3 separate regions of the Homo sapiens genome follow, and all the other regions are linked to region 2. Evidence: fine-mapped expression QTL. A gene starts in region 2. Each other region holds a variant in brackets. All regions are shown on one strand. Distances are between the middles of the regions.

What was found.
Region 1: its variant is fine-mapped to the expression of ERMN in whole blood (TOPMed, PIP above 0.99).
Region 3: its variant is fine-mapped to the expression of ERMN in whole blood (TOPMed, PIP 0.95).

The regions. Positions count from the first base shown.
Region 1 is chr2:157,402,408-157,405,263 of GRCh38, reverse strand. No RefSeq gene overlaps it. Among named protein-coding and RNA genes, the nearest start is that of CYTIP, 40 kb to the left of the region's middle. RefSeq lists silencers at 556-655, 686-735. The variant T/C (reference allele first, on the strand shown) is at 1,508.
Region 2 is chr2:157,324,104-157,326,959 of GRCh38, reverse strand. It overlaps ERMN (ermin), which reads left to right and starts at 1,136. Exons shown (of 3, transcript NM_020711.3): 1 at 1,136-1,558; 2 at 2,198-2,290. The coding sequence starts at 1,318. RefSeq lists an enhancer at 703-1,252.
Region 3 is chr2:157,413,439-157,415,938 of GRCh38, reverse strand. It overlaps CYTIP (cytohesin 1 interacting protein), which reads left to right. Exons shown (of 8, transcript NM_004288.5): 8 at 1-1,320. The coding sequence ends at 262. Among named protein-coding and RNA genes, the nearest start is that of CYTIP, 29 kb to the left of the region's middle. RefSeq lists an enhancer at 2,188-2,237. The variant G/A (reference allele first, on the strand shown) is at 939.

The DNA of each region.
Region 1 (2,856 bases), 78 kb before region 2:
CAGCAATGATAGACTGGATTAAGAAAATGTGGCACATATACACCATGGAATACTATGCAGCCTTAAAAAATGATGAGTTCATGTCCTTTGTAGGGACATGGATGAAGCTGGAAACCATCATTCTCAGCAAACTATTGCAAGGACAAAAAACCAAACACCTCATGTTCTCACTCATAGGTGGGAATTGAACAATGAGAACACATGGACACAGGAAGGGGAACATCACACACTGGGGCCTGTTGTGGGGTGGGGGGAGGGGGGAGGGATAGCATTAGGAGATATACCTAATGTTAAATGACAAGTTAATGGGTGCAGCACACCAACATGGCACATGTATACATATGTAACAAACCTGCATGTTGTGCACATGTACCCTAAAACTTAAAGTATAATAATAAAAAAAAGAAATGAGCTTGCTAGACAATGCTATTTATTATTATAAAAATTGCTTAATTATAATAACTCTACCATTTTTGGTTATCAATAAATGATGTAAGTAAATTTTAAAAGTATAAACTAAAAATAGGAAAAACATAGAAAATGATAATGAGTAGGGATCTGATCCCAACCAGCTGTATTTGAAGACATGGTTGTTATTTCCTCACCACAATATGTGACATTTTATTCTGAGTTTCAAAACTACAGACAGAACCACTGATTAAAAACAGGATGTGGGTGAATAGTCATGCATGAGACTACCTGGATGAGACATGAGCTAATCTAGTGGTTCTAAAACAGCAGCCTCCCGTCAAATGCTGGCTTGCTGCTTCAGAATCACCTGAGCAACTCGTAAAGGTGCAGATTCTCAGGCATTGGGCCCCAGAGATTCTGTTGAATAGGCCTGGGTGGGTTTCAGAAGTCTTTGTATAAACAAGTTCCCTAAAAGATTCTTGCATTAATAGCTAGGAACCATGTTTTGAGAAACACTACCCTGGAAGTTTATAATTTCTCTGTTAGCTCTGGTGTTGGTGAACTGTAATCGGGATGGAGTATAAGCAAAATGATAAAAAATGTCAAAAATATTAAAAGTGTCTTAAGAAGAAAGCTACCTCCTAATAACCTCCTCTTAGATTTTCCAACATGAATGTATGAAATTTCCATGCTTTTCAACATCATTTTCTGCATGTAACCATGACTCCTAGTCTGCTGAAGTGGAAGCCATCTAGAAGGAGTTCCCTCAATTCCCTTGCCTCCAATGATTTCTATCTCCTTTTTCTCTTTGCTGGTATTTCTAACTGAAATGAATGCATGTCTTTCCCACTTCTTACATCTTTACTTTCCCACAGACTTCTTTCTTCAGGCCAGCAAATACTTTTTATTTTTACCTATTCTGAGCTTAACCAGTAAAACCTGCATTATCAGCATGAACAGAAGATCATATCTCTTCAATATGTAAATTAATTTCCTAAGCCCCTGATTGCTAGATTCAGCATTGGAAACTAACCTTTATTGATCATGTTTCCATTTTCTGTCCTAAATCTTTTGAAAATGCTGGGATCTTACTTGG[T/C]GGTGCTTCCACACTTCTGAAAAGAGAAATGGATAATTGAAAAAGCCACAAGTCGGGGAGGTTACAAGACAGCCGAATAGGAACAGCTCCAGTCTACAGCTTCCAGTGTGAGCGATGCAGAAGATGGGTGATTTCTGCATTTCCAACTGAGGTACCGGGTTCATTTCACTGGGGCTTGTTGGATAGTGGGTGCAGCCCACGGAGTGTGAGCTGAAGCAGGGCGAGGCATCACCTCACCCGGGAAGTGCAAGGGGTCAGGGAATTCCCTTTCCTAGCCAAGGGAAGCCGTGACAGATGGCACCTGGAAAATCGGGTCACTTCCACCCTAATACTGCACTTTTTCAATGGTCTTAGCAAATGGCACACCAGGAGATTAGATCCTGTGCCTGGCTCACTGCTAGCACAGCAGTCTGAGATTGAACTGCAAGGCGGCAGTGAGGGTGGGGGAGAGGCACCTGCCATTGCTGAGGCTTGAGTAGGTAAACAAAGTGGCAGGGAAGCTCGAACTGGGAGGAGCCCTCTGCAGTTCAAGTAGGCTTGCCTGCGTCTGTAGACTCCACCTCTGGGGGCAGGGCATAGCTGAACAAAAGGCAGCAGAAACTTCTGCAGACTTAAACATCCCTGTCTGACAGCTTTGAAGAGCGTAGTGCTTCTCCCAGTATGGAGTTCGAGATCTAAGAACGGACAGACTGCCTCCTCAAGTGGGTCCCAGACCTCCGAGTAGCCTAACTGGGTGGCAACGCCCAGTAGGGGTGGATGGACACCTCATATGGCCGGGTGCCCCTCCGAGACGAAGCTTCCAGAGGAAGGATCAGGCAGAAACATTTGCCGTTCCACAATATTTGTGGTTCTGCAGCCTCTGCTGGTGATACCCAGGCAAACAGGGTCTGGAGTGGACCTCCAGCAAACTCCAACACACCTGCAGCTGAGGGTCCTGACTGTCGGAAGGAAAACTAACAAACAGAAAGGACAACCACACCAAAACCCCATCTGTACATCACCATCATCAAAAACCAAAGGTAGATAAAACCACAAGGATGGGGAGAATTCAGAGCACAAAAGCTGAAAATTCTAAAAATGAGAGCACCTCTTCTCCTCCAAAGGAACACAGCACCTCACCAGCAACGGAACAAAGCCGGATGGAGAATGACTTTGACGAGTTGAGAGAAGACTTCAGAAGATCAGTAATAACAAACTTCTCTGAGTTAAAGGAGGATGTTCGAACCCTTTGTAAAGAAGCTAAAAACCTTGAAAAAAGATTGGATGAATGGCGAACTAGAATAAACAGCATGGAGAAGACCATAAATGACCTGATGGAGCTGAAAACCATGGCACAAGAACTACGTGAC
Region 2 (2,856 bases):
GCCAGATGAAACTTAGTTTGCAGTTGGTGAAACAGACATTACAGAGATAATTGTGCAGTTGCTTATTTAGTTACAACCATGAAGAATACTCTGAAGGGCAAAGACAATGTGTAACAGAGTCCTGTCCTAATCCTGGCGGTTAGAGATAGTGTAGTTAAGGAGATGATATTTAAGCTTAAAAACAGAACTTAGGGAAGCTGGTCAGCCCAGGGCTTGGGCTTGAGGAAGAGAAGGGCATTTCACATAGAAGGAGCTGTGTGGGCAAAGGCTCTGGAACCATTTTGTACTATGAGAAATCCAAAAAAGAAAAAGATTTAAAAAGGAAGGGGTGGTCAGTAGCAGTCATTTAACATAATCACCTGTTTCTCCCAAGGGCAGATTGCATTGGTCCTCTACATTTTACCAGCATTGTGTAATATCAGTATGGAATAGAAAGGATTGTAATTCTGATTGGGGGAGGAGAAACCTTCATGGCGATAATTTTATTAGGGTTTTAAAGGATCGGCTGGGCTTCAGCAGACATAAACTAGAGGATAAGAAGCTATAGACTAAGTAAATTACTCTGAAATTATAAAACTTTTGGTATTAGCAAGTTGGTAGAATTTGTTTATTTCATAGGTCCCTTCTCCAGCCTGCTGGAAGCACACCATCAAATCTGCAGCCAGAACCATTTACAGTAAAGTTGTCCTGTTTATAGGTTTTTTCCATAAGCTGTTTTATTTTTTAATAAATAAGAAACAATGCCATTGTCCTTTACAAAATAGCTGAGGTTTTACTTGAACAAAATCTGTTTGGAAATGTTAAGCTGGTTACACAGAACTAATATGCCTCAAGGTGGTCATTCTCTCTGGATTAAAGCTGTGGGACAATTGTGGCTCCTGTTACAGGGAAAATTACAATGGGCCATTATGAAAAGGGACAAAAATCTCTGTTCCCAGAGGGGGACTGACAAGCTGAAAGTCCCTCTCTACATGCCAACACAAAAGCCTGATTGCTTCAGATTGTTTGTTTATGTAAATCAAAAGGATGCCTTTAACTCTGCCAGGGAACTGGCAAGCAACAAAGAAGGTGGTGATTGGCTGGATTCTTGCTCATGGCTCCTGGCAGATCTGACAAATCCTCTTGCTTTTGCTCTAATCTCTGTCTGGATACTTTTAGGAAAAGAACCTTGTTATTATGTACTAAAGTGAATAATTTGTGCTCTTAGAGTAGGAGTTGGAACTATAGGACTTGAAGGCAAGAGCAGGTATCTTATCAAGGATCTACTCACTCAGTTTCCCTAAAGCTCTCTCTCCAGATCGGATTCAACCGCACATCATGACAGATGTTCCGGCTACATTTACCCAGGCTGAGTGTAATGGGGATAAACCACCTGAAAACGGTCAACAAACAATCACTAAAATCAGTGAGGAATTGACTGATGTGGACAGCCCCCTGCCACACTACAGGGTAGAACCCAGTCTGGAAGGTGCACTCACCAAAGGAAGTCAGGAGGAAAGAAGAAAATTACAAGGGAACATGCTGCTCAACTCATCCATGGAGGACAAAATGCTAAAAGGTAAAGTGTTTCCCTTCTCCTTAATTTTCTTGTTTTGACTTATAAATTTACCCTGGATTTTTTTGATAAACTATTATCGAAATGAGCTGGACACCCCAAAAATGTAGCCCTTTATTCTACTACGCATAGTATAAGGACTAAACCTCTGCCTCTGGTGAAATCCAGGCTGGTCTATTTGACAGCTGTGACCCCAGACAACTTTCTGTCTCCCGAAGCCTGAGTTTTTTTCACTAGAAGAAGGCGGAATAATAATAATAACTACAAGTCTAGGGTAAGTATTGGCTAAATGTTAACTACTGTATTTATTATGATTATGGACAGCCCCATATTATTTGAACAAAGAGAATTCAAAATGTTAAAATTTCCTTCTAAATATAACTGAAGTTCTCTGAATTTATGGTTCTATATCTTATATATATATCTTATATAAATATTAAAGGAGAGATTACAATCAATAAAGTGATCATTAAGTAAATAAATTGAATTGATAAAGAATGAATCCAAAGAGTGAAATAGTAAATTTTAATGATCAGATTTAAAATTAAAGACTTCTACCTAGAGTTTAAATTGATAACTTATTAACTGTTGAACAATAAATATTTTAAATGTTAAAATACTGATTTTATATTTTTTTCCTAGAAAACCCAGAAGAGAAACTCTTTATTGTTCATAAGGCTATCACAGATCTTTCTCTCCAAGAAACTAGTGCTGATGAAATGACATTCAGAGAAGGTAACAAGAACTACAGTTTTGTACACAGAAATTGTTTGACTGAGTATGGATGACAGTCTTTCCATGAAATGTTGCATGAGCGTGGGGTTGACAAAGCAATCCAGGCAATGACTTCAAATTTTCAAAGCTGCTGTAGGCAGATAAGAGAGTCTTAACTTATCTGTGGGTTCCACCTTATAAAGCATTCCAGACTGTTCAAGGCTGAGGCTGCATGGAATGGCATAGCTGATTGGCATACCAACGTGATGTCTATCTCTTAAGTTAGTCCACTGAGTCAACCCTACTTTTTGATTTGGTGTGTCCAAATCTGTGTGTGCACCTTGTGAAAGGTAAATGTTTCAAAAACGGGTCTTTCCTAAAAGTCTACAATTAACATACAGCTTTTTTTTTTTTTTTTGAGACGGAGTGTCACTCTTGTTGCCCAGGCTGGAGTGCAATGGTGCAATCTCGGCAGACTGCAACCTCTGTCTCCAGGGTTCAAGCGATTCTCCTGCCTCAGCTTCCTGAGTAACTGGGATTACAGGCACCTGACACCACGCCCAGCTATTTTGTGTGTGTGTGTGTGT
Region 3 (2,500 bases), 89 kb before region 2:
CTTCAGTCGGCAGACGAGTACAGATGATGAGTGCTTTATCCCCAAGGAGGGGGATGATTTTCTGAGGAGGTCATCTTCAAGGAGGAACCGGAGCATCAGTAACACCAGCAGCGGATCCATGTCTCCCTTGTGGGAGGGCAACTTATCAAGCATGTTTGGGACCCTGCCCCGGAAGAGCAGAAAGGGAAGTGTCCGAAAGCAACTCTTGAAATTTATCCCTGGCCTTCATCGTGCTGTGGAAGAGGAAGAAAGTCGCTTTTGACGGATTGTGGTGTCCTTTCAAATTAGCTTATTTCACAAATATCTCTAGACTCACCCAGATCCCAGCTTGGTGGGAAAGTGCAGAAGAATTGCAAAACTGACATCCCATTTCACAGCAATAGTGACCTTTATTTAAATTGTTGTGTTATAGTTTATGCTTCTTAAATCATTTTTCAACCTAAACAGCCAATTTCTAAGCAGACAGGAAAACTAAATAATAAGTTAATTAATATAACAAAGATGCAGGTTCCTGCTCATTCCAGTAATGTCTTTGAAAGCAAAACTAATATTTATTTTCTAGATTATCCCTGTGAATAATTGAGAACTTTTTGGAGTCAAGTATGAATAAAGGTGTGGCAGAATATAATAATCTGGACTATTTTCTATAGGATAATTGCTGGGTTATAAAATCTTAGGTTTGCTTATGCCCAGTAGCTCCTGCGGAGGCTTAATAATAGGCAATTTTGAATTTGTTCAAACCTGTAATGGCTTGTAAACAAAGATGACCATCAGCTGTTTCTCACATCTATAGTGACAATAAAGCGGGAAGTATAAGATTTAATAGGAGGGGTTAAGGTTCATGAGAACCATGGAAAGATGTGGTCTGAGATGGGTGCTGCAAAGATCATAATAAAGTCATTTTTATAGACAGTCTAAACAAAATGGGTGGGGATGTC[G/A]TGTTTTTTGCCCAATTCAGCTTTTGTTCTGCCTGAACATTAATGGCAAGTCTAGAACTCTCCGAATCCTACAGCTTTGTAATTTTTTTTCTACAAATGTCTAACATCCAAAACTGAGGGTTGGGAAAAGGACTTCCCTCCTGTAGTTTTTTTCATATTACTTCTCACTTTATATCTTATATTCTAAATAGCTATCACCTCAGCAGTCTTTTGCCTATTGGTTATGTTAGTATCACATTACTTCTAGCCTTTCAATTACTCCATGTTTTATTTAATATCCATTGAAGTCTATGAATTCTCTGTTCTGGTGGCACAGCTATTCATAACCTATATTCTAGAGTAGACAATCTGGACTATGTAATAAATAGTCTGCTGATTTTAAGTTCTCTCTCTCTCTCTCTCTCTCTCTCTCTCTCTCTGTGCGTGTGTGTGTGTGTTTGGGAGAAATAGAAACACTTCAATTTAAGTAGAGCTGCTAAATTTAATTAAACTTCTGCTTAAGAAATGAGTTATTTTGAGATAAAAGAGGGTAGGGTAAGGAAGCATCTAAGATGAGAAAGAAATGATAAAGTATGAAAAGATTTCTAGTTGGGACTTGCCTTCTATTAACTCTTTGAACTGAGAAACATCCAGTGGCCTGTGCATGACAGTCACTCATATGAAAGGCAGGGTGTCACACCTTTCACAGAAATGATAGCAATACTGTCTACCATTTACTGAGTACCTAGTTGGCTAAAGACACTTTACGTATGATCCTCACAATTACTATATAGTAGGTGTTAGGCATACAGATAACAAGTCAGGAATTTGGAAATGTTCTCAGGGTCACAAGGCTAGTCAGTGGCAGGGCTAAAATTGGAAGCCAGTTCTTCCTTGCTCTAGTCTATTCCAGATATCTTTTACTCTTTTGGTTCTGTTTAGTGATCATCACAGTACTTTTTATTCCACCCAACAGGAATACTTAAAATGTACAATTATAGATGCTGCACAGATAAGAGCATTTCTTTGGGTAAATAGGAAAACAAACATTTCTCTGTTCCTCATATACAAGTTTCAGACATAGGTTCTTTAATAACTACATGATTAGCAGTGCATTTATTTTCAACAAGAGCTTGCAAACCAGTTATGATTCAACTGGTATTGCTTATTTCTCATCATAGTCTAGAATCATCCTGTTAAAGGTCTACTTATATGAATTCAGCATTTCTTGTTATCCTATTTCACAAAGTCCAGGGGAAGGAAACACCACATTTATTTGAGGAAAGATGACTTTGAAATCTTCTACAAGGTGAAAAAATGCTTTGAGAACTACACAGAATGACATAGGTCATACGGGAAAGCAGACCATAGATCATTTGCTTTTCTTGTGATTTTAATACAGAAGTGTAACACTGCTGTATGACAGTAGACCTCAAATGCAAAAAAGGGGCAGGGAAGGGACGGAGCAAGCATCACTTTAGTTTGCGGTAAGAATTAGAGTCGAGGTATGTTCTGAGAATAAAGAAAAAAGTACTGGTTAACCAAAGTACAGGAAGGAAGGGTATGTCATGTTCTATATTTCA